7 linked regions of the Homo sapiens genome follow. Changing the gene in region 1 together with any one later gene gives a genetic interaction. Each region holds a gene or a part of one and is shown in the gene's direction. Other genes may lie near its edges. The genes, in order: PPP2R1A, NUP85, CDC40, POLN, MASTL, GOLT1B and MBTPS2.

Region 1 (3,500 bases):
ACCCATTTGCTGGGCCTCAGAGACTTGGGGGTTCTGAGATTCTGTTCCACTTTCCCAGCCTGCTCTGATCTCCCTGTTTGGGGCCCCAGTCCTTGTTTATCATACTTCTGACCTTTAAGTAATTGGTTGGTTGGTTGGTTTTTTGCAGTTTGTTTGGTTTTCCTTTGAGGCAGAATCTCGCTCTGTCGCCCAGACTGGAGTACAGTGGTGCGATCTCGGCTCACTGCAACCTCTGCCTCCTGGGTTCAGGCAGTTCTTGTGCCTCAGCCTTTCAAGTAGCTGGGATTACAAGTGTGCACCACCATGCTTGGCTAATTTTTGTACTTTGAGTAGAGATGGGGGTTTTCCCATGTTGTCCAGGCTGGTCTTGAACTCCTGGCCTCAAGTGGTCTGCCCACCTTGGCGTCCCAAAGTGCTAGGATTACAGGCTTGAGCCCCCGTGCTCGGCCTTGAGTTTACCTTTTTTTTTTTTTTTTTTTTTTTGAGACGGAGTTTCGCTCTTGTTGCCCAGGCTGGAGTGCAATGATGCAATCTTGGCTCACCACAACCTCCGCCTCCCAGGTTCCAGCAATTCTCCTGCCTCAGCCTCCCAAGTAGCTGGGATCACAGGCGTGCACCACCACGCCCTGCTAATTTTGTGTTTTTAGTAGGGACAGGGTTTCTCCATGTTGGTTTGGCCAGGCTGGTCTCAAACTCCCAACCTCAGATGATCCACCCACCTTGGCCTCCCAAAATGCTGGGATTACAGATGTGAGCCACCACGTCCGGCCTGATTTTACTTTTAATTGACTCATAATTTTATATATTTATGGGGGTATAGTAGTGTTTCAATAATGTGTGCAAATGTGTAATGATCAAATTAGGATAATTAGCATATCTATCACCTTAAATGTTTACTGTTTCTTTGTGATGAGAACATTCAAAATCTTCTCTTATAGCTGTTTTGAAATATGCAAAATGTTATTATTAACTATGGTCACCCGCCTGTGCAGTGATCAGAGATTTCTAATTCCTGTGTGTGCCCTGGATTCTTGAGACTCCTCCCACCTTGGGTTTGGTGTATCCGTGTCTGTGTACACTCTCTTGCCCAAGAGCCCTGTGCCCACCTGTTGCCCCAGTCCATCCTGGCTCACCCTCTCTCTCCCTGTCTCCTTTCGCTTTCCAGCACCTTGCAGAGTGAAGTCAAGCCCATCCTAGAGAAGCTGACCCAGGACCAGGATGTGGACGTCAAATACTTTGCCCAGGAGGCTCTGACTGGTAAGACCTAGAAAGCACGGAGCCCTAGCAGGAGGGTGGACTTTGAGGACAGGCACTGGGCCTGTGGGCAGCAGCTTCTGGGAGGGGGAGGTACCTTGGCATTGTGGGCAGAGAGAGGGCTCTGGTTCTGATTCTTGCCTGTTCCTGTTTTCCTAGTTCTGTCTCTCGCCTGATGCTGGAAGAGGAGCAAACACTGGCCTCTGGTGTCCACCCTCCAACCCCCACAAGTCCCTCTTTGGGGAGACACTGGGGGGCCTTTGGCTGTCACTCCCTGTGCATGGTCTGACCCCAGGCCCCTTCCCCCAGCACGGTTCCTCCTCTCCCCAGCCTGGGAAGATGTCTCACTGTCCACCTCCCAACGGGCTAGGGGAGCACGGGGTTGGACAGGACAGTGACCTTGGGAGGAAGGGGCTACTCCGCCCACGTCAGGGAGAGATGTGAGCATCCCGGGTCACTGGATCCTGCTGCTGTAATGGGAACCCCTCCCCCATTTACTTCTCCACCTCCCGTCCTCCCCATCATTGGTTTTTTTTTGTGTGTCAACTGTGCCGTTTTTATTTTATTCCTTTTATTTTCCCCCTTTTCACAGAGAAATAAAGGTCTAGAAGTAGTTGGTCCTCTGGCCTTAGTCATCAGCTTGGAGGAGGGGGCACCACCCCAGAGCCACAACATCTGCGCTTTTCTCTGGAGAAGATCTTGTTACAGGACCCATTATACCCCTATGTCCCGAAAGAATACTCTGGGGATCCCCCCAGGAGTGCTGCTGGCCTTTGGGGTAGAGGGTCCATGAGGTGCTCTGGGTGGTGTCCTGTAGTGCAGTTCAGATTCATAGATGTCGGCCGAGTATTTGGGGGGTTAAGAGCAGGTGCCTTGGAACCAGACTGCCTGGGTCCAAATTGTGGCTCCTTCAGTTAATAGACGTGTGACTAGGAGTAGCTTGTTAAGTCTTTATGAGCTCAGTTTTGTATTGTGTAAAATGAGAGTTACAGTAATACCTAGATTGCAGGGTGGGTGGCGAGGACCAAGTGAATTAGTACCTGGAAAGTGTGTAACAGTTTCAACATGAGAAGTACACAACATGAGAAGCAGAGTTAGCTGTACATTGCCAGAGAACCCCCTGTGGGCCATTTCCTGTGTTCTTGAAGAAGACTTGGGCTTGGACCCTGTCCCCAGGAGGTCTCAGAGTAATCAGGACGGTACTAGGGAGAGAACTGTGGCAAGATAGATCAGTTATCTCGGTATCTATTCTCCCCTTCCTAATGTAGAAGCTCTGATTTTTAACTGGGCAGATGACTACATGGATTCAAGGTATTTTCCTAGTGTCTCTTGAAATTAGGTGTGGTATTGTGACCAAATTCTAGCCAAAAAGATGTTGAACAGAAGTGGTATATGCAGCTTCTAGGAAGTGTTCTTAAGGGGGAAGGCGTCATCCCCCACCTTTCCTCCTTCCTGCACTCTGGAATGTGGACCAGATGGCTGGAGTAGGAGCTGCCACCTGGGGCCAGAAAATGATCTTAGGCGTGAAGGTCAAGTAAGGCAGGACAAGAGAGAAGGAGCCTGCCTCCCCGAGGCTGTGAAGAGCCATGCCAGTACTGTCACCTGGGAGAATTAAACTGGTCAAGTGCCTGTTCGTTTAGGGTTTCATCACTTGAAGGTGACCGGAATTCTAACTGATGGAGGGAGGGGCCCAGAGCACCCTGGAGAAAGGAGCAAGGGACGTATGGCTGGTGGTGTCTGCATGGAAGGGTTTCACAGAGGAAATGATGCTTGAGCACATTTTGACCCAGGTGGTGGAAGGGAAATGTGGCTTTGAGTGACAAGGTGATTTCACCAGCTCAGCCTTCATATTACCACATCCCTACCCTTTGTTAGACTTTATTGTGCCCTAGGGGATGAGGCTGAAGGAGACCAAAAAGCATCTTTAGAAATTTCCATTTATGCCCTGGGCGATAAACTCTCTCCCAGTTGAGAACTACTGCTCTAGAAATGTGAACACACGTGTAACCAAACGTCAAAGTCTGACATTAAACTTTGACTTTCCCCATGGTTAACGCTGCTGGTCCATTGTAACAAGAGTGCAGTGGACCAGCAGCCTTTGCATTCTCAGGAGCTTGTTAGAAATGCAGAGCCTCTCGTCCCTGCCCCGACCTGCTCAGGCAGAGCCTTCATTTTAACAAGATGCCCAGGTTCATCTGCACACTGAAGTTAGAGAAGTCCTGCCTTAAATACTAACCCAGTTTTTC
Region 2 (3,500 bases), on another chromosome or scaffold:
ACTGTAACCATTTTTAGGTGTACAAATATCACCACCTTGCGTTTCTAGAGTGGCCTGTTCCTTCCTTACCCTTCTTCCCTCAGACCTGCTATCTTAGTCCATCTCACGCTGATATTACAGAATACCTGAGACCAGATAATTTATAAAGAAAAAGATTATTTTCTCACCGTTCTGGAGGCTAGGAAGTCCAGGATCAGGGCACTGGCAATGTTGCTGGTGAGGGCTGCTCTCTGCTTCCAACATGGCACCTTGAACACTGTGTTCTCATGTGGTGGAAGGGCAAGAAGGACAAACTCCCTTCATCAAGTCGCTTTATAAGGGCACCCAATCACATTCATGAGGGAGGATGTGGCCTAATCACCTCCTGGCCTAATCACCTCTTAGAGGCCCTACCTCTTAATACTATCACATTGGCAAAACTGGGGTTTTAGAGGGGATCCCTTCAAACCATAGCATCTGCTCCCCTGCTTGACTTGCCACAGGTAGATAATGGCTTTTCTCTGGGTGAGCTTAGGGACTTCCTGGAGGCTTGAGGGCTACCATATACATAACTGTTTCCATTTCAGGGATGTTCATTTAAAATAACATCGCGGGAAACTACTTTGACATTTAAAATCTAGAAAAAGCCAGCAAGCCTGTTTCTTGGCACCTAATGGACACCTTATGGGATGGCGTGTTCCAAGAGTCTCACTCCAGTGACGTGAGCTACCGAACCACTGGGCTTCAGGCTGGGTATTATTCAGAATTTCCAGCCCTCTATCCAAAAGAGGGTGTTCTATGATTGCACTGAATCTTTAGCAAGGCAGGAAAGGGAGTGCCAAACATAATCAATCAAAGGTAAACCTTTCCAGAACTCTCCATATATGGTAAGTCAGAAAGAAGGTCCCCTTCCTTGTTGTGCACCCTGGATGGTGGGCATTGCACTGAAGACGTGCTGGGAAGGGAGGAAGTGGGTAATGGCAGAAGATGGCCTTGATCAGGTGTCAGATTCACTGACCTCAACTGGCTGTTTGTAGATCTGGGCATGGGAAGAGTTTCCTTCGCCCTACCTGCTTTTCTTGTTTTGGCCAAAAGAATGCCAGGGCTTCAAGAAAATGATACTAGATTTGGGGAATGAAAAACAAGTTTTTTGTGTGTTTGTTTCTGGGTTTTTTTTTTTTTTTTTTTTTTTTTTGAGACAGAGTTTTGCTCTTGTCACCCAGACTGGAGTGCAGTGGCGTGATCTTGGCTCACTGCAACCTCCACCTACTGGGTTCCAGCAATTCTACTGCCTCAGTCTCCCAAGTAGCTGGGATTACAGGTGTCCGTCACCACGCCCAGCAAATTTTTGTGTTTTTCAATAGAGACAGGGTTTCACCATGTTGCCTAGGCAGGCTGGTCTGGAACTCCTGACCTCAGGTCATCTGCCCATCTCGGCCTCCCAAAGTGCTGGGATTACAGGCGTGAGCCACCGCGCCCTGCCAAGTTTTTTTTTTTTGAAACAGGGTCTCACTTTGTCACCCGGGCTGGAGTGCAGTGGAGTGATCTCAGCTCACTGCAGCCTTGACCTCCTGGGTTCAAGTGATCCTCTTGCCTCAGCCTTCCAGGTAGCTAGGACTACAAGTGTGCGCCACCATGCCTGGCTAATTATTATTTTTTTTTTTGGAGAGATGAGGTTTCACTATGTTGCCCAAGCTGTTCTTGAACTTGTGAGCTCAAGCGATCTGCCTGTCTTGGCCTCCCACAGTGCTAGGATTACAGGCGTAAGCCACCATGCCCGGCCTGAAAGTCAAGTTTTGTGTCAATATTTTCACAGGCCTGTAAACATTGTGAGAAGTCCCTGCATGGAAGAATTAGTGAGAATAACTTAAAAACACACAAACACACCATCGTTTGGCTTTGTTGGTGTCTCTGCCCATAGTTGAGTATTCTAAATTTCCTGTGTTATAACAGTGAGTGAGTTTCACCAGGGCTTCCTAATTTATAAGCCCTGTATCTGGATTTTTAGGAATAAAACAGATTTGAGCAGAAGAAGTCTGTTGGATGCAGGGAGTATAAAAGGGGAAAGCATCCTGCTGTTTCCAGTGGCAGAAGAGAAAGAGAAGTACCATGAAGAGGGGTGAACAACATCACTCTCGTGCCGGACACAGACAAGGAATGATTAGGCTTGCAGTCCCCCAGTCTCAGCCTCTCTCCACTCTCACAAGCAGGAAGGGATCTGAGCTCTGTTAGTGGGAAATCTTGGAGTTTGCATTTCTCTGATCACGAGGCTACCTCCTATCCTGTTTTGAAAGAGGAACAGAAAAGCAGAGCTTGTCCCAGGAATTGTGAAATGGGCTGCAATGTCTTCAGAGGCAGTAGCAGTTTTAGGAAGTGTGCCCTCCTGGCTCTGGGGAAAGGTTGAATTGGGGTCTTGTGGGCACTTGTTTTCTCATGGGATGTATCAGTCAGACCCATGCACAGTTCTGGGCGGCAGGGAAGTGTGTCTCTTTCTGGACTTGAGCCAGTGAGCTGTTGGCATGCCTTTTTAAAGGCATTAGAAAAAAGGTTTCTTTCTTTTTTTTCCTTTCCTGTTCACACCACCTTCATATGAACATGGAGAAGGGAGGTTTCTAAGTGGGCCCCTGATTTACTCCTATGTCAATAATCGTGCCAGACCCTAAGGGGCAGAAAAGGCAGCCAGGGGATCCTGACTCAGAGGCTGTAGTTCGTCAGCCCTGCTAAAGGGCCAGGGGTTTGTCTCTCAGTGCCTGGGTGGGCATGCTTGACTGCTAACCCCTTAGCTGAAAGGAGATGGCAGGAGTCCTCCACAGGGTCCCTTCTTCCCTCCTGGCTTACAGCTTCCTCTGAAGACGGGCCAGTTCCTTGCTGTCTGGCAAGAGGAAACAGCTGGGGTGCACTTCACTGGGAGTTGGGCAAGATGTCGGCAGTTTCCTGGTGCCCTTCAAGTCCTCCAAAAGTATCGAGCTAAAAGGTGACAAGTCTTCCTTCAATAACCAAGAAGAGTTCCAGCTTAATGTCTGCTGAATCTAGAATCTTCTGACTTGTATTTTGGCCCAGCCCACAATCTTGGATGCAGGGTGCAGCAGTGTTTACAAACCTCACACCCCATTTCCAGAATAGCAGGTAGAGGCACTGGAGCTTTGATTACTCCAGAGCCCCCAACAAGCAAGATGGGGCCTGGGTAAGGAGTTGACAGTGACCTTAGTACAGGACAAACAGCTCATTTGGGGCTACAGTTGCTTAGAGGGGTCACCTTCACCGTAGCTGGTCTTCCCAACTCCGCAGCGTTCTCTCGTTTTCAGCAGAGGGCTACTTTGGAGCTGATAATTAGGCCTTTCTTGCCTTGAATGTTAAGGATGCCCACCTGCTCTGTGTCTCGGCTGCTCACTCAGAATCCTTCAGAGTGAGAGAGAGACAGAGTGAGAGTGGGAGTGTGTGCGTGTGTGATCTAAGACCTAACTGTGTGGTTCAGGCCTGCTGGGCCCTGTAGAGAGACCGTGGTGGCTTTGTGCAGCACT
Region 3 (3,500 bases), on another chromosome or scaffold:
CATTCTTTCATCACTCACATGAGGTTTTTTTTTTTTTTTTATGTTTTTTCTCCTTCACCAAACACATTTGAAATGCTTTACATGTAAACTGAAGATAGTCCAGGTACCAAGCATTTATTTATCATCATTTATCATCATTTCTGGATGGGCTAGATCAGCTCACAGATCCCTACAGCTTTGCCTGCCATCCACCTGCATTGCTGCAGGCTGTTTAACACTCTCACCTCCTCAAGTTAAGGTAGGCTAGCCAGTAAATAACACTTCCCCATAGGCTTACCTCAGACATCTTGCTTCACCCTACCATGGTACATTTTTAATTTAATTTTTGGTTTTATTTCAACAGCTTTTGGAGTAAAAGTGGGTTTTGGTTACATGGATGAATTATATAGTGGTGAATTCTGAGATTTTAGTGTATCCATCACCATGGTACATTATTAAAGAACTTTCTTTCAGTAACAGATTTTTTAACATAAAGGCCAAAGTTTAAATGAAATAGAAAACAAAATCACCACCACTGTTATAATGATCATGGAAAGTGATTTATGAAGTACAGGATTTACCATAAGCAGTACAGTGTCATCTTGTGATTTTTCTTCTTCCAGAAAGTTTCATGAAAGATTTATTAAATATATAATATCAAGAGTTTGCTTTTATTTGCATATTATTCCTTTGTTCCAGAGATAATTCTGAAGGTACTTTTTAAAAGTTGCTTATTCTGATATGCTATTTAAAATTTTTAGGGATATCCCTGTGGATTTCAAGTACATAGCAGAACCCAGTATGCACTCAATGCCTGCAGTGACTTTGTCTCCAAATGGTGAGTTAGTATGTAGATTGTATTTTTAAATGAGCTTCTAAGATACAGTGTGATTTCTTTATTCAAAAGAACTTTGGCCCCTTCCTTCTTGGGGAAGTTTGTCACTGTGCCATTATTTGTATAAGGTAATCTTTACAATATTAGAAAGAATTACTGGTTTTCATATGCAAGTCACCTCACCTACTTTTCTGTGTCTCTTTTTAAATAAAAATAAAAGAAACAATGATTTACAGCTAACATTGATTGAACATCAGATTTTTATTTAACAATCAGTTTTCTTTTCTTTTTTCTTTTCCCCTCCTCTCCCCTCCTCTCCTCTCCCCTCCCCTCTTTTCTTTTCTTTTCTTCTTTTCGAGACAGGGTCTCCCTTTGTTGCCCAGGCTAGTCTCAAACTCCTGGGCTCAAGTGATCTTCCCTCCTCAGCCTCCCAAGGTGCTGGGATTACAGGCCTAAGCCACTATGCCCGGCCAGAGTTTTCTTTTCTAATTCTCCTTCCAAACAGAATCACGTTCAGTAAATCATTTAATAATGATTTGGCCAAGGCAGAAGAATCACTTGAACCCAAGAGTTTGAGACTAGCCTGGGCAACATAGAGAGACCTCATCTCTACAAAATAAAATTTTAAAAATCAGCTGGCATGGTGGTGCACATTTGTAGCCCTAGCTACTTGGTCAGGCTGAGATGGGCAGTTTGGTTGAGCCAGGAGATTGACTATGATCATGTGACTGTACTCCAGCCTGGGCAACAGAGCAAGACCCTTCTCTCTAAAAAAAAAAATAGTAATAGTGATTTACTGTAAACTCTTTCAGGGGATAGGAAGTTTTGGTCTGATTCTCCATAATGAGAGAACACTTTAGCAATTCACTATAAAAGATTTTCTCAGGCAAAAATTAAGAAGATAAATCTATTTAATATTGTTTAATCCATTGTCTTTTACGTACAAGATAATTTGTGCTACAGATATACTGACAATATACTGATGTAATTATAGCTTTACATGAGAGTCTTAAAGTGGGAGTTCTGATGTTTGGGGGACCTTGTCATTGAAACCACTGTCAATTCACATAATTAACTCCAAGTGTAGGGCAAGGAAGAATTTGCTGTTCCATCAGGGCCTCTGACACAAGCAAATGGTAATAGTTGTCAAATGCTCTATCATTTTTATGAGAAGAGAAACCTAACTGAACCTTTTTTTGATCATTGCTAGATTATATACTTCGTCACTGTGCATCTATATTTCATGTAGCGTATTTTTAAACCACCTATTACAGATTTTGTGCCCATCTTGAACAAGGCCATTTACCCACTCAGGCATTATTTAAGTCTGTTTCCTTAGTAAGTAATGTTTACATGTACAGTTGGCCCTTTGTATCCATGAGCACCATATCCTGGGATTCAACCAGCACGAATCCAGAATATTCAACAAAATAAACAATAAAAAATAACAATACAACAATTAAAAACAACACAGCATAACAACTAGGTACAAAGCATTTACGTTGCATTAGGCATTATAAGTAATCGAGAGGTGATTTAATGTATACAGGAGATATGTAGGTTATATGCAAATACTATGCCATTTTATATAAGGGACTTGAGCATCTGTGAATTTTGGTATTGGGTAGGGGTGCAGATCCTGGAACCAATTCCCAACAGATACCAAGGGATGACTATATATAGGATGCAAGTATAGTCATGCATTCCTAACAACAAGGGTACTTCTGAGAAATGCAGTGTTAGGTGATTTTGTCATTTTGTGAACATCACACAGAGTACTTACACAAACCTAGATGGTATAGTCTACTTACCCTAGGCTGTATGGTATAGCCTGTTGCTCCTAGGCTTTACCCCTGTATGGCATGTTGCTGTTCTGAATAATGTAGTCAGTGGTAAGCATTTGTGTATCTAAACATAGAAAAGGTACAGTAAAATCTCAGCATAGAAAAGGTACAGTTAAAATTTAGCACTATAATCTTATGGGACCACTGTCATACGTGCGGTCCATCATTGACCAAAACATTGTTAAGTGGTGCATGACTATAGACGCTGCAGTTTAGGCTCTAGGGGCTTTGATGAATCCTAAGTAGAGAAAAGCATTGTAGCCTTTTAAAAAGTTACTATAATTTTTAATATATCTTTTTTTGTATAGTTTTATTTAATAACCCTAGGCTTTCTCACCCCTTAATCTTTCTTTATTCTGTAATTACCACAGATAAGTCTCTTTCTCCTATTTCCCATAGTTCTGTTGTCTATACTTACTATAAATTAATTTCATTTCACAACTTTTAGCTTATTTCTTTAACATTAAGCTTGGAATTTCTATATTTCCTTATTTTTTTAAAAACTTTTATATGAGAGTGCTCAATGATATAGGATCGTATATGCAAAAGCCATTAGTTTATATATTAATACCTCTTGCCAGTGACATATTTATAACATTTTACAGGTGGTATAGTAAATTTATTTTTTAGTATTATAAAGTATTTGGGAGCAAAACTTATATTAATCACAGTGAACATATTTAAAATAAAAAGTTTTAAAAATTGTTTTAGTCTTCCTCTAAAATACCTCATTTATTGAATTTACAGGAAAATGGCTAGCATGCCAATCAATGGACAACCAAATCTTAATTTTTGGAGCACAGAACAGATTTAGATTAAATAAGAAAAAAATTTTTAAGGGC
Region 4 (3,500 bases), on another chromosome or scaffold:
ATGGCTTAATATGTTTTTGAGACTCACTCATGTTGATACACGTAAAGCTATATAGTTCATTCATAGTTTTCTCTTTTGTATAGTTAGTATTCCATTATATGATATTCCACAATGAAATTATCTGTTAGATTGACAGACATTTAGGTTATTTACAGTTTTTGTTACTATAGATCATACTGCTATGATGGTCTTATATGTCTCACAGCTGCACAATTCCAGTTTCTCCACATCTTTGCCAACACTTGTTATTTCCTGTGGTTTTTAAAACAGTAGCCATCCCAACGGGTGTGAAGTGGTATCTGTGATTTGTTTTTTGAAAGGTCTCCCATTACTGATTTTTGTCTTCTTGATCTATTGAGAATTGTGTAAAAATTTCCACTGCGATGGTGGATTTAAAAATTTCCACTGCGATGGTGGATTTGAAAATTTCTCCACATAGGCTGGGTGCGGTGGCTCACGCCTATAATCCCAGCACTTTGGGAGGCTGAGGCGGGTGGATCACAAGGTCAGGAGTTCAAGACCAGCCTGGCCAAGGTGGTGAAACCCCATCTCTACTAAAAATACAAAAATTAGCCGGGCGTGGTGGCGGGTGACTGTAATCCCAGCTACTTGGGAGGCTGACACAGGAGAATCCCTTGAACCCGGGAGGCAAAGTTTGCAGTGAGTCAAGATCGCGCCACTGCACTCCAGCCTGGGCGACAGAGCAAGACTTGGTGTCAAAAAAGAAGAAAATTTCTCCATGTAGTTGTATATCATTTTTTTCTCTATGTATTTTGAGTCTATTTTATAAGTTATATCCAGGTTTAAAGTTGCAGTGAATAATTATCCTGGTCGTTTTAAATTGCAGTGAATCAAAGCATTTAGCATTACATAATGACTATTCCTGGTGATGCTTTTTCTCTTGATATTGTTTTGTCTAATATTAATATTCCTTTGCCATTTTTCTTTTGCTTAGTAATGTAAGGCATATAGTTTTCTTTTCTTTACACTTTTCCAGTAAGTTTTTGTTATTAGTTAAGTCCTGATTCACGGACCCAGGGTAGGGATCATCATGTACCCAGGTCCCCGTTTACCACCCTGGGAGAAGGATGGAGAACAGAGGAAAGGTGGGGTGGAGCCAGTTCTGATTTTCCCAGGAAACGTGCCTTTGTCCCAGGTCAAGACCAAGGATATGGGGCAGAGGGACTTGCACACATGCCAGTACCATTTGCACACAGAGACATCACCCCCTTTAGCAGTCATTGCCGTCTTGGAGTGGTAGAAGTCCAGGTAGTTTTGCCAGCAGTTCATGTTCTGGTTCTAGTTGACAAAGTGGCTGTCAAATGGGACAGTCCTGTAGTTCTTAATTTTGACCTTCATGTCTTCTGCCATGGTGCTAACTTCTAAAGACCCTCAGCAAAGACCATAGTTTTGTTTTTACTTAGCATGATGAAATAAACATTTTTACTCTCTAAATAGTTTTCTTAACTTTTAATGTTAACTATACTGTCTTGATTTAATTACTGTGCCATCAATTTTGTAGCTGGTTATTGTTACTGGGTATTTTGATAGTCTTCTTTTTTTTCTTTTGTTTGCTCTTGAACAATATCATATGTATCTTTGTGTATATAGCTTTTTGTTGTTGGATACTTTCATCTGGATACATTCTTGGAAATAGGGTCATTGGGGTTTTTTGTGCCAGGGTGGTATATACACTTTTTTTTGCCTTTGATATGGCCAGATTGCTTTTTAAAGGAGTTTATAATGCTACCAGCACTATATAAGTGTCTACTAGACACCATTGACCATATGGCACGCCATCATTTTATGAATTGCCAAAAAAGAAAAACTCTTAGTTAAACCAACACAATGTTTTCTTATTAAGAATTTTTGTTTTTCATACTTACTAGAAAAGATCTTTTTAGATGTAGGTAGACATAGATTTTTATCATACCACTCTTGGGCATATGTTAAAAGGAAAAAAATAAGTCAATTTAAATGGTTAGGGTAGTTCTAAAGCATCACATTTCAATGTTCAATTCTTCTGTTATTTTTTGACTCAGAGTTGTCTGTAATTTTCCACACTGTGTATCAGGAATGTTGATGAGAAAGTATTTCTTAAGAGTACCTGGCCAGAAACAATCATATGATGTTCTTGATTAAGATGCATCTTCATTTCAGATATGTTAAAATGTGAAAAAAAAATGCATCCAAGAATCACTAAAATATGGTAATCTCACTCTAATCTTATCAGTGGGTATCATTAGTGTTTTTCCCTAGCTCAATGTGATATAAAATGCCGTATCAATTTTAACTTGTGTTTCTATTATTAATGAAGCTGAACTTCAGTATCTGTAGCAATGTTGTTTTAGCAACTGTATGATCTTTAGTATTTAATTGAAGGTAAAGATGAGATTGTTGTTTCTCAGTATATTCAAGTTTACCAAGTTTGTCTTAGAGGATATCACTAAATGTAGATATAATGTCGAAATTACTTGATTTTCAAAAGTATGTATTTTAAGAAGTACTCCTCTGTGAATTGGCATTTATGACAGGTCTTAAGTAGTCATTCTTGAACTTGTACATTAGAATCATCAGGGAGCGTATCAAAACGCAGGTTCCTAGCTCTGTACAGAGATTAAGTAATTTAGTCTAGTGGGGGGGTACAGGAATCTGTATTCATAACAAGTACCTCAGATAATTATGATACTTGTGGACTATGCCTAGAAGCTGTGGAAAATTGAGGGTAGTTAGAGCAACAGATTTTTCTGAGAACCTCTTTGGTGATACTGGCTAAAATTTATAAGTAGAATGCTTGATTAGAAAGCTATGGAAACTTGTTAATAATCTGGTTTAAATGCTAGACACTGAGGAATTTGAATTTACTGTAATAAATATGAAGGGTCGGCATGGCTAGATTCTTGAGCAGGAAAATTATATGATTAGGATGGTTTTCGTGGAATGTCATGTGTAATTCTATTTGGTAAGACAATATGAAAAAATGAAAAATGGAGATTTGTGTTGAGCTAATTCTCTTTTATTGGTCTTCATTTCAACTTTCTCTGTACCTTCTGTCCAGAATAAACAGAGAATAGGCTAAAACAAGGTTTGATTTATTAAGCAGAATATAAGCTCCATCAGGGAGATTTTGTTTATTCTTGTATCAGTAATCTCTAAAACAGTACTTGGCACAATAGCATTTGTTGAATATATGAATGCACAGAACAGCTTACATATCGAGTACACTTCAGCAAGAGTTTCCTTTGAATCACTTAAAATTATCTATCAGAAGTTGTTGCAATTAATCTTACTTAGAATTTATATTAAACCTGTTATGGATTTTAAATCGAGGTTTATTTATTGCTAAAATTGCGGGAAGTTATTAAGTCCTTTAAAGTCTTTCCATGTAAATTATATTTTAATTTTATAATTGGTATTAGGAATAAAGTGTTTTAATTTTTATTTTTATTTTCCTTTTTTAGGAGTTAACAGAGCAGTTTCATAAAGTTGAATCTCAACTG
Region 5 (3,500 bases), on another chromosome or scaffold:
ATGATGAAGGGTTAATAACTGAAAACATATTCAAATATACACGGCCACCACTAAGACCTTGATCAACAAAAGGACAAAGAAAATGAATACACAGTTAACACATATATGTATATATGGGACTGTGTTCTTTTCACTAGTAGTAATTAAATAAATGCTAATATAAGAAAGAGTAAATGAACCATCTTACACTATTAAATGGGCAAAAGAAAGGAATACCGATGGTCCAGTTAGTAATACTACCAAAAAAGCACACTAATATTTTTCTGGGGGCATTGTAAATTAGCATAGTGCTTTCTGGAGGAAATCTGCCAATATGTTTTTAAATATAAAAGTTTTTAATTCTCTTTGATCTAGTGGCTTATGCTTTGGAATTTATTCTAAGGAAATTGTTCAAATGAACAAAATACACATAAATGAAATCACTTGTAGCAACATTGTTTCTAATAGGGAGAAACTAGAAATTACTTAAGTTCATCATAGAAACATGGATAAATGATTGATTATCAACTTAGAAACATATTGTATTCTTGGCCGGGTGCCGTGGCTCATGCCTGTAATCCCAGCACTCTGGGAGGCCGAGGCGGGTAGATCACTTGAGGTTGAGGTCAGGAGTTCTAGACTAGCCTGGCCAACCTGATGAAACCCCATCTCTACTAAAAATACAAAAATTAGCTGAGTGTGGTGGCACACGCCTGTAGTCCCAGCTACTTAGTAGGCTGAGGCAGGAGAATTGCTTAAACCTGGGAGGCAGAGGTTGCAGTGAGCCAAGATCACGACACTGCACTCTAGCCTGGGGGACAGAGCGATACTCCATCTCGAAAAAAAAAGAAACATATTGTATTCTCTATTAGAAAGTGTAGACGGATGGGAAAGTATTAATAATGAAAATAACCAGAAATTGGACTTAAAAACTCTGGAATTATAACTATTAATATTTGAAAATATATGCAGATCTACAATTCTTCATGTGGAAGTACAAAGTTCAACAGTTATGAATACCTAAAACTTTTTACTAAGTTTGGTAAAATCTGATCTATGCTGATGTAGGGGTATTTATAGTCTTTTGTTTGTTTGTTTGTTTTGGGATGGGGTTTTTGCTCTGTTGCCCAGGCTGGAGTGCAATGGCGTGATCTCGGCTCACTACAACATCCACCTCCCGGGTTCAAGCAATTCTCCTGCCTCAGCCTTCTGAGTAGCTGGGATTATAGGTGCCCGCCACCACGCCCAGCTAATTTTTGTATTTTTAGTAGAGACACAGTTTCACCATGTTGGCCAGGCTGGTCTCGAGCTCCTGACCTCAGGTGGTTCACCCGCCTCGGCCTCCCAAAGTGCTAGGATTACAGGCATGAGCCACCGTGCCTGGCCAGGGGTATTTATAGTCTGTTGATTCCAGTTCATGTGATTATTCATATGATTTGCCACTAGGGATATTTCATAATATGCAGTATATTTACCACATTACTTTTCTAAAATCTAAACATTTTTGAATTGTGATTTCAAAGAAATCTGACTTTGAAATCTTATTTCGAAATCTGATTCTAAGGATTTCAGATAAGCTATTGGAAAATATCACAAATGACAAAAATTTTGCATTAAGATAAAATTGTTGATAAATTTAAGTCACTTTGTTTATCATAAGGGTCTAATTTTAATAAAACTTTTTTTGTAAAATATCATATACGTGTATTATTATTATCACTTCATCAATGTGAGGCATAAATGACATTTGTTGTTAAAACTTTCAGTATACTTTCATTTATTTACTTATTTGTTTTTTTTTTTTTTCTTTGAGACAGAGTCTCGCTTTGTTGCCCGGGCTGGAGTGCTGGAGTGCAGGGGCACAATCTAAGTTCACTGCAAGCTCTACCTCCTGGGTTCACGCCATTCTCCTGCCTCAGTCTCCTGAGTAGCTGGGACTACAGGCACCCACCACCACGCCCGGCTAATTTTTTGTATTTTTAGTAGAGATGAGGTTTCACCATGTTAGCCAGGATGGTCTTGATCTCCTGACCTCGTGATCCACCCGCCCTGGACTCCCAAAGTGTTGGGATTACAGGCGTGAACCACCGCGCCCAGCCTATTCATTCATTTATTTATTTTGAGAGAGAGTCTTGCTCTGTCACCCAGGCTGGAGTACAGAGTACAGTGGCATGATCTAGGCTCACTACAACCTCTGCCTCCCAGGCTCAAGCGATTCTTGTCCCTCAGCCTTCCGAGTAGCTGGGACTAGAGGCATGAGCCACCACACCCAGCTAATTTTAAAAAGTCCTATAAGAACATTAGAGTTCTGGGATTATTTTTGTTTGTTTAAGAGACAGGGTCTCACTGTATTACCCAGGCTGGAGTGCAGTGATGTGATCATAGCTTACTGTAGCCTTGAACTCCTGGGAAAAGCAATTCTCCCACCTCAGCCTCCCCAGTAGCTGGGACTACAGGTGCTTGCCACAATGCCCAGCTAGTTTTTAAATTGTAGAGATAGGTCTCACTATGTTGCCCAAGCTGGTTTCAAACTCCTGGGCTCATGGGATCCTCTCCATTTGGCTTCCCAAAGTGCTAGGATTACAGATGTGAGCCACCATGCCTGGATAAGAACATTAGACTTCTCTTACCATTTTTTATATCTAAGTGGAATAGTATAGTATTATGTGTCAGTGTTGAATTATTTTAAAATATTATGCACTGAAACATGCTAATAATCTGGGTCAGTTTCTATCTTGACCTAGGCTTAAACATATTAGCTAACGTGAGGGGCCTAAAATTAATATTGATTCCATACCATCTCCTTATTTATTTATTTAGTTTTTGAGATAGAGTTTTGCTCTGTCGCCCTGGTCGGAGTGCAGTAGCGCGATCTCGGCTCACTGCAACCTCCGCCTCCCGTGTTCAAGTGATTCTCCTGCCTCAGCCTCCCGAGTACCTGAGATTACAGGCGCCCACCACCAAGACCAGCTACTTTTTGTATTTTTAGTAGAGACAGTGTTTCACCATGTTGGCCAGGCTGGTCTCGAACTCCTGACCTCAAGTGATCCATCTGCCTCAGCCTCCCAAGGTGCTGGCATTATAGGTGTGAGCCACCGTGCCCAGCCACTGTCTCCTTTTTTAACATTTGGTTTACAAAAAATTGTTTTGTTGTCATATACATAACATTCATTTTTAGTCAATGGGAGGTAAAGGTTTTAAATACATTTATATACTTTTCTTTGCATACATAGATATTAATATGATGGATATCCTTACAACACCATCAATGGCAAAACCTAGACAAGATTATTCAAGAACCCCAGGACAAGTGTTATCGCTTATCAGCTCGTTGGGATTTGTAAGTACTTGAGAAGAAAATTAACATGACATACCCCTTCATGATCACCACTTAAAATTTAAAATCACCTTTAAAAAAAAAGATCAAAATAGATTTAAATATCAAGCATTTGGATTTACTTTAACAGTTTGTCTACTTAGGTGGTATAACAGTCTATGTACTTAGGTGGTGTTTTGGGGAA
Region 6 (3,500 bases), on another chromosome or scaffold:
GCCTTTTTGACCGCAGTTAATTTTTAATAGTTCTACTTGGCTATGTTAGATAACAAGCTAATATTAAACTTGAATCCCCTAAAAGATGCGTCCCCCAGAAGTTCAGAATACTCCAGTGTCCTTGAGTTTCATGTAACCAAACACCTTTAACCTAAAAAATAAAAATTCTGTGGGAAGAGGTATGGCATTAATGGTTAAGCACATGAGCTTTGGATTCAAAAGACCTTGGTTCGAATGCTTATCTAGAAGTGTGGCTTTAGGCAACTTAAGTCAACTCTCTAAACTTCAATTTCCTCCATCTTTAAAAAGATGTAATTATACCTGCATTCCAGTAGTATTGGAAGTATTAAGTTATATATAAGGTATGTGAAGCACTTCATAAGGCCTAATTCGTGGTAAATTCTCAGTACATAGTAGGTGTCTTTCCATATACCTTCCTTTCTAAAAACATCTCAGAATTTTTATGTAATCATCAAGGTTATTTGTGAAATGATAGAAATTAGTCATCTTCAACTAACAAAGCTGCCGATGTTTAATCCTAACTACTAAATAGTTATTTAATAGAATTTTACTTGCTCTTTTGTCCATATTTTCCTCTATGAAATTATGTCCACTATCCAAATAGTTAATTTGGTAAATTCTCTTAAGGCCTTTGATCATGAAAGTATCAGCCTCAAATTTTCATAGGAATGTGTGTTGAATTCACTTAACTGGTGTATTTATAGACCAGGTACCTGAATTATTTTAGACTAACTTTGGGAACAAAAGGTGTCTGCAATGGAAGACACTAGTTATCAGGAAATTGAGCAGGTGGGGAATGTAGAAAAAGCTAAAGTTGATAAAAGTTTTCAAGTTATCAGAACATTTTATATGACTTAAGAGTTTTTTAAGTAGCTGTGACCTAGATTTTAGCTTTCTGGAGCTGAGGCAAAAAAGTTAAGCAATAGATCAGAAATCAGTGATAGGGTATTTTAAATTGTGCTTCTAAAAATACGGTGGCTTCTACTCTGACTCATCTGTATGCAGATTGTGCTTCTAACTAAACTACGGATTAATGGCTATTTTCTAGAATCAAAACTAAAATGATCAAGGAGGTAACTTAGTGAATTGTGCTTTATAACATTAATAGAAGAGTACATCTGTCACCTTAGAAGTTAAGACTTTTCATACTAAAAAAATAAGACCTAGAGAATGCACAGTCAATAAAAGTATTAATTTTATATACAAGATAAACATAGACTTTAAAGCTTACACCTCGTCTACCACTGTATATTCAGTACCTGGAACAGTTCCTTGCATCTGGCAGTTGATCAACAATTCTTTGTTTTTTAATGAAACTAATGAAACATGAAAAACCTAGAATATTAATATTAGGTAAAACAGTATTCTTTGAAACTTCGGAGAGGTGATTTTAGGACTCTAGACCAAATATTTAAGTAGATTTATAGTTTAGGTAAATTTGTAGATAAGTCCATAATAAGTAATCAAGAAATTAAAAGTGATGCCTGACCTTCTGAAAATTTGGTTTTGAGAATACTGGTACCATGATTTTCGAAATATTTCTTGTTGCCATTGTGACAAGCAGTATATAATTGGATAAAGGATATTGATTGTGCGGACCTACCATAACATTTCTAATGCAGTAAAGAAGGAATCAATTTTAAGAGGAAGAAAGAACTACAGATATTGTGCATTTAAATAATAATTATAGAATGTGAAAGGAGATAAGTAATTAAGGAAACCTATACATTTATGTCTGATGCGAGAGAGCTTTTCAGGAGGAAAAAAACAAATTACATATTAAAACCAAAGGTTTAGAATCCCGATTTATCTTTTTTATTATAGCTATGTCTGAGAAATGCTATCTCCCATATAAGGCTTAGAAATTTTCATTCATGTTTTAAATTTTGAAATAATTTGCTGATAATTAATTTGTTATAAGAGCTAAATAAATGTCATTATGAAGTTAACCTGCAATGTTGGGTACCTGTTTTCTTATACCTATGAAAGGAAAACTGGAAAATTTTCTTAGTTTACAGGGATGTTAATGTGACTTTAATTTTTCTCTACCCTTAACCATATACCTTATATTGCAGAAATTGGAATGGGATTAACAGGATTTGGAGTGTTTTTCCTGTTCTTTGGAATGATTCTCTTTTTTGACAAAGCACTACTGGCTATTGGAAATGTGAGTTTTTAAATATATATTTTAACTAAATTTATAAGGAAATTTTAACTACGAATGAATTATTATCTGCTATTAAATTTGGGGAAAATAATTCACTATTACTCATAAGTAATTCCTGTTACATTCTCTATTTCCATCAGGAATGAAACCTGTCAGCTTTCTGTTTAAATAAAAGGTAAACACTTAATGAGGTTTTCTAATTCCATAACTACTCTGTTAAGTGTTTGTCATGAGATTTACAATAGATTAAATGAAGGCTGCCTCTAAATAGGAGTTCAAAATAGATGACTTGATAGTTTCATGTCTTGATAAATCACTAAAGTATTTTTACTTTAAACATCCAAGACTTCACATTTGATTCAGCTGCATAAGATAGATTTTTTTAACCTTTTTAAAAATATATATTTCTATGTTAATGGTTGACTTGCTTAGAAAGGGATCTATGTTGTTTATTTGGAATGTGTACTATGCTATTCATGTGTGGAGGTTATGATCCAGAAATAAATAATAACCCTTCTAAGGTAGTGAAGACACTGTATGTGTGTGTGTGTGTATATATATATATACACACACACATATATATTTGGGCTTTTAACTGGAAATGGGAAAAGATAAAGAATAGCAAAATTGTTCAAAATTGATGTCTTAATAAATGATAATAGCATTAGTATCCTAGAATATGAAGCTTAACCATTAGGCTTAATATGTATTTGTGCGAAATATTTTTCACTAAAGAATGTTAATGGGGAGGGCAAGTATTTGGAAAGAAAACCTGGGGAAAGCAAGCTCTTAATCCATCACCATTTCTTGTCCACAGAATACATTCAAAATATTTGAAAACACATGGTTGTATTTTTATTTCTGCTGCCACCAGATATTCTAGAATTTATAAAACTAGAATCTTCTTGGCTTCACGTTGTTTCTTCTGCTATCAACTTAGCCATGTCAATATTTCTCCCATCCATAGAAACTCCTGTAGCCTATGATGAATATTTCAGAACCAAGAGGAATACCCTTGGGTGACATATTTATGGGCAGCTTTCCTCTTTATGCCTTGCCAACTCATCTGCTTGACTAAGCCTTCCTCATCCAGCTAAAACTAGGAAAACTACTGCAGACACAGATGCCCCTTGGTAACGTCTAATCTTTCTTTGTTTCTCTTTTTCTCCATTTAATCAAGATAGAAGAGGAATGAGACAAGTGGAACAAAGCTACAACTTTAAAATGCATAACCCACTCCTTGGTTCTGCTGCTTGGTTGTACATTACAGTTCTGTCTGGCCAGTTGCCCACATTAAAAGCCAAACAAATGT
Region 7 (4,048 bases), on another chromosome or scaffold:
ATATGTAAAACAGTCATAAGCTGTCTTGAAGCTGGAGAAACATGTCCCTAAGTGAGTAAAACTTTAGGAAAAGCAGGGAGAATGAGGCAAATTAGTAGCAATATTTGTAATATAGGTTTCTGGTATTATTGTATATTTTCACTTGGAAGGGGGTTGAGGATACATTTTTATTTGGGATACTTGTTCTTGAGATAGTATTATGTTCTCAATATTTTGGTATTAGCATTATTATAGCTAATGATGCTTTTCCAGAAAAGTTGAAACAAATAACTTTTAAAGATGCACATAAATAGAACGTAAAAAAACCCCAATAAATAGTTTTCTTTTCTCTTAGAGATTATCTAGTTCAGTGGTTCTCAACCTTGGCTGCACAGTGCAATGACTTGAGGAGCTTAAAAAGTATAAATGCTTGGGTCCCACTGAGCATCTGATTTAATTGGTCGAGGATACAGAACGGGCATCGGGAATTTTAAAAGACCTTGGTGATCCTAAAGTGCAGGTAAGGTTGAGAACTGCTGCTCTAGTTCAATATATAATCAGGTATACATTAACGTTAAAATGTGTAGGTGTTCAGAGTTCTGATTTTTAACCATAGCACCATCTCAAATATTATAAAAGGTTGAAAAAAGAGCCTAATTTAATCAACATGGATAAATTTCAAAAAGCATGTTGAACGATACAAGCCAGACACAAAGAGTACTTATTGCTTTCTATTTACATAAAGTTAAAAATAATCAGAACAGGGGGAGGGGCTACTGACTAGGAAGGGACGCAAGAAGGAAATTCCTGAGAGGGAAATTTTCTCCATTTTGATTAGGGTACACGTATATATATATATATATATATTTATCAAAACTCACAGAAATGGACAATTGAGCTCTGTATGTATGATTTCATTACATGTAAATTTACACTTCAGTAAAAAGGATAAACAATTAAATCTGGATATCTATGACAGGGTCGGGGAGGGAGAGATTATTACTTCAGACGACCCCAAATCCTCATGGGTTAAAAGAAACAGCAAACCCCTGACCAGAACTGGCGAGAATGGAGAGTAGACAGCAGGGAGGGCCAAAGCCTAAGAAATCGCTACAAGACTAGATGCCGAGTTCGAACTACTGCCTGGACGGCAGCGCCCGAGCGCCCGCAAAAATAAGCCCCCGTGCCATTTCCGGTACTAGCAAATCCTCCTGTATGTCCCCACTGGAAGAGTCCGGTGGGAAACCGTGCCACCGCAAGGAAGGAGCCGGCGGTAGCTTGGTTCCTGAGCGGATGCTGGGGCTGTAAGGCGCGCGCGGTCAGCTGTTGGCGGTGCAGGGAGGAGGACGCCGGGGCTCGCCTTCCCTCCTCTGCCGCCGCTGCCGCCATGATTCCGGTGTCGCTGGTGGTGGTGGTGGTGGGTGGCTGGACTGTCGTCTACCTGACCGACTTGGTGCTGAAGGTGAGGGCCTTGGGCCTAAGGTCCAAGCCCGCGGTGCCCATGGCCGGAGCGCAAGGCCTTCTTTTCTCTTCCCCTGCCTGGCGCCTCCCGGGCTGGACGGTGCCCACGTGCGACAGTCCGCGTGGTGGATCGGCCCGGTGGAGTAAATAAAACATTGCCGGCCGCGGGAGGGTTGTGGCGGCCTGCGCGGCTGCCACTGTCGCAGTGCGGGGCAGTGCAGGCCCTTCAGCCTTCGGGTCCTGCCCGGGAGGCGCCAGTGGTGGGATCGGGAGGGCCGGGGCCCTGCCAGACCCAGCAGCTGCAGTGCAGCAGGGAGGAAAAGAAAACGTCTGCTTAGTAAAGACAGTGCTTTCCCTTATTGTTTTTAAGTTCAAAACGCTCTAGAGACTCAGATATTGGAATGAATCTAAATCAAGTCGTGATTGAAATCAGTAGTCTCAAATTTTTAAATGCATATGATCATCTGGTTTGCGGTCAAAATGCAGATTCCGATTCAGCAGGTCTGCGGCAAGGCCTAAAATTCTGCATTTCTAACCAGTTCCCAAGTGCTACTGATGCTGCCAGATCACAGAGTGTACTTCAAAGTAGCACACTCAAATAGCAAGGATTTACATAACCAGTTTCTAACTACTTGAATTCTGATTTACACGCTGCACCCCACTTCTTCACACTAACCAGATACCCTGGGTGCACGGTCCATTTTCCAGTTATTTGAGAAGGGTAGCAAAAAATCAGGAAGAGTCGTCTGACCACATGCTTCAGGCAAGCTTTTGGAATTGAGTACTGGGGGGTAGGGGATGGGGAAGAGTAACTATATATGTGGAATAAGATCATATAAATTCTCAAGTGTTTAATAAAAATTCCAGTTATGGATAGCAAAATCTTCATGTTATGAATACCATTTAAAATAGAAAACCATAGTATTGCATGTTTTAGCTTTAACAATAAAATGAAATGAGACTTTTCCTTCTATCATTTAAACTTGTAAAGTGCAGGAGGTTACATAGCGTAGTCCTTAGATCCAGGGCTGGGCTTCTAGCCAATGTGACCTTGGGAAAATTGCTATCTGTGCCTTGGTTTCTCATCTTTAAATAGAGATAATAGTAAGGATCTCCTAAGATTACAGAGAGAATTACATTAGTGTATCCACATAAAGTCTCGCTCCTCAACTTGAGGTTCAAGGACCAGTAGCACTTGCATCATTTCGGAGCTTGTTAGAAATGCAGAATCCCAGGCCTCACCCCTGACCTAGGGAATCCGAATCTGCATCTTAGCAAGATCCCAGGTGACTCCTCTGCACCTGTTTGTGTTTGAAAAGCACTGATGTGGCCGGTCACAGTGGCTCACACCTGTAATCCCAGCACTTTGGGGGAGGCTGAGGTGGGAGGATTGCCTGAGTCCAGGAGTTTGAGACCAGCCTGGGCAATATAGTGAGACTTTATCTCTACAAAAAATTTAAAAGTTAGCCAACCATGGTGGTGCATGCCTGTAGTCCCAGCTACTCTGGAGGCTGAGGTAGGAGGATCTCTTGAGTCTGAGAGTCAGAGGTTAACAATGAAACAAGATCGTGCCACTGCACTTTGGCCTGGGTGACAGAGCAAGACCCTGTCTCAAAAGAAAAAGCACTGATTTAAAGTACTTGGCATAGTGGTTAACGTGTCATAAGCAATACAGGCCACAATGATTTTGTTGTTTGAAAAAGCCACATGAGCCAGGCATGGTGGTGCAGCCTGTAGTCCCAGCTACTTGGGAGGAAGAGGCGGGAGGATCGCTTGAGGCCAGGAGTTCCAGGCCAGCCTGAGCAACATAGTAAGACACACACACAAAGCCACATGATTTCTTCATGTTGCATATGTGAAAAAAATCTAAAATAAAAAGAACTTTTACAGTCCCTAGTCACAAGTGTGTGAGGTGACCAAGATGTCACTGGTTTCAGTAACAACCCCTAGCTCCTTAAGAATGCACCAACCTCTGAGCAAAAGACCTAACGCCTACTCAGAGTATCTGCCTGGGAAATGGAGAGACCTCAACTTTTAGGAGCCTGCACCTTTAGTTTCTCTGCCTCCAGCTTGGTCTGCTGATCCACCCTGGGCTTTTCTAGGATTTCTGCATAGACATCTGTTAGAGAAGTTGTGTCACTCCTTTTCCAAGTCTTGGAAAACAAGTACACTTAAAATTTAACTACCTGAAGACTGAGAGCAGATAATACTACAGATCCAAAGCAAACAGCTACCTATATTCAGACTATGGTCATTTTTTAAGACTATGATAGGGCTAAGATTTCCTTCTTGGACAGATAAGTTTCTCACATGGGTGGGCATGAATATGACAATACTTACTGTACTTACTGTGTCAGGTATATAACACAGCCTTATGTCATCCAAAATCCTATATTAGTCAAGGACTTCAAACTTCCCTAAAGGTAAAACTCTTGTTGGGGCTGTGTATAAGCCCCTATCCCCACAACCCCAGAGAATTTAAGGGACATTATTGAGCCCAAGATGGCTTTAGATAAGTTTTTTACTTTTTACATGATCGAGGTTGGCCTAACTTCTTAGAGTTGTTGCTCAGAAGAAGAAAGCAAACACTGATCGCAACTGTCCCTTC

What was found.
Region 2: changes in PPP2R1A (region 1) and NUP85 together harm fitness more than expected from each alone (negative genetic interaction), as found in Homo sapiens cells (one large-scale study listed by BioGRID).
Region 3: changes in PPP2R1A (region 1) and CDC40 together harm fitness more than expected from each alone (negative genetic interaction), as found in Homo sapiens cells (one large-scale study listed by BioGRID).
Region 4: changes in PPP2R1A (region 1) and POLN together harm fitness more than expected from each alone (negative genetic interaction), as found in Homo sapiens cells (one large-scale study listed by BioGRID).
Region 5: changes in PPP2R1A (region 1) and MASTL together harm fitness less than expected from each alone (positive genetic interaction), as found in Homo sapiens cells (one large-scale study listed by BioGRID).
Region 6: changes in PPP2R1A (region 1) and GOLT1B together harm fitness more than expected from each alone (negative genetic interaction), as found in Homo sapiens cells (one large-scale study listed by BioGRID).
Region 7: changes in PPP2R1A (region 1) and MBTPS2 together harm fitness more than expected from each alone (negative genetic interaction), as found in Homo sapiens cells (one large-scale study listed by BioGRID).

What each region holds. Positions count from the first base shown.
Region 1 is NC_000019.10:52,224,552-52,228,051, forward strand, and holds part of PPP2R1A (serine/threonine-protein phosphatase 2A 65 kDa regulatory subunit A alpha isoform), read left to right. Parts: intron 1-1,165; coding exon 1,166-1,257; intron 1,258-1,413; coding exon 1,414-1,430; 3' UTR 1,431-3,500. UniProt on the Homo sapiens protein: The PR65 subunit of protein phosphatase 2A serves as a scaffolding molecule to coordinate the assembly of the catalytic subunit and a variable regulatory B subunit.
Region 2 is NC_000017.11:75,226,179-75,229,678, forward strand, and holds part of NUP85 (nuclear pore complex protein Nup85), read left to right. Parts: intron 1-566; exon of another isoform or gene 567-1,987; coding exon of another isoform or gene 1,988-2,102; exon of another isoform or gene 2,103-2,953; intron 2,954-3,500. UniProt on the Homo sapiens protein: Essential component of the nuclear pore complex (NPC) that seems to be required for NPC assembly and maintenance. As part of the NPC Nup107-160 subcomplex plays a role in RNA export and in tethering NUP96/Nup98 and NUP153 to the nucleus.
Region 3 is NC_000006.12:110,225,427-110,228,926, forward strand, and holds part of CDC40 (pre-mRNA-processing factor 17), read left to right. Parts: intron 1-740; coding exon 741-817; intron 818-3,405; coding exon 3,406-3,500. UniProt on the Homo sapiens protein: Required for pre-mRNA splicing as component of the activated spliceosome. Plays an important role in embryonic brain development; this function does not require proline isomerization.
Region 4 is NC_000004.12:2,232,122-2,235,621, reverse strand, and holds part of POLN (DNA polymerase nu), read left to right. Parts: intron 1-3,461; coding exon of another isoform or gene 3,462-3,500. Other genes in the region: HAUS3 (HAUS augmin-like complex subunit 3), read left to right, coding at 3,462-3,500. UniProt on the Homo sapiens protein: DNA polymerase with very low fidelity that catalyzes considerable misincorporation by inserting dTTP opposite a G template, and dGTP opposite a T template. Is the least accurate of the DNA polymerase A family (i.e. POLG, POLN and POLQ).
Region 5 is NC_000010.11:27,161,852-27,165,351, forward strand, and holds part of MASTL (serine/threonine-protein kinase greatwall), read left to right. Parts: intron 1-3,212; coding exon 3,213-3,319; intron 3,320-3,500. UniProt on the Homo sapiens protein: Serine/threonine kinase that plays a key role in M phase by acting as a regulator of mitosis entry and maintenance.
Region 6 is NC_000012.12:21,504,789-21,508,288, forward strand, and holds part of GOLT1B (vesicle transport protein GOT1B), read left to right. Parts: intron 1-2,096; coding exon 2,097-2,188; intron 2,189-3,500. UniProt on the Homo sapiens protein: May be involved in fusion of ER-derived transport vesicles with the Golgi complex.
Region 7 is NC_000023.11:21,838,369-21,842,416, forward strand, and holds the start of MBTPS2 (membrane-bound transcription factor site-2 protease), read left to right. Parts: upstream 1-1,248; 5' UTR 1,249-1,366; coding exon 1,367-1,441; intron 1,442-4,048. UniProt on the Homo sapiens protein: Zinc metalloprotease that mediates intramembrane proteolysis of proteins such as ATF6, ATF6B, SREBF1/SREBP1 and SREBF2/SREBP2.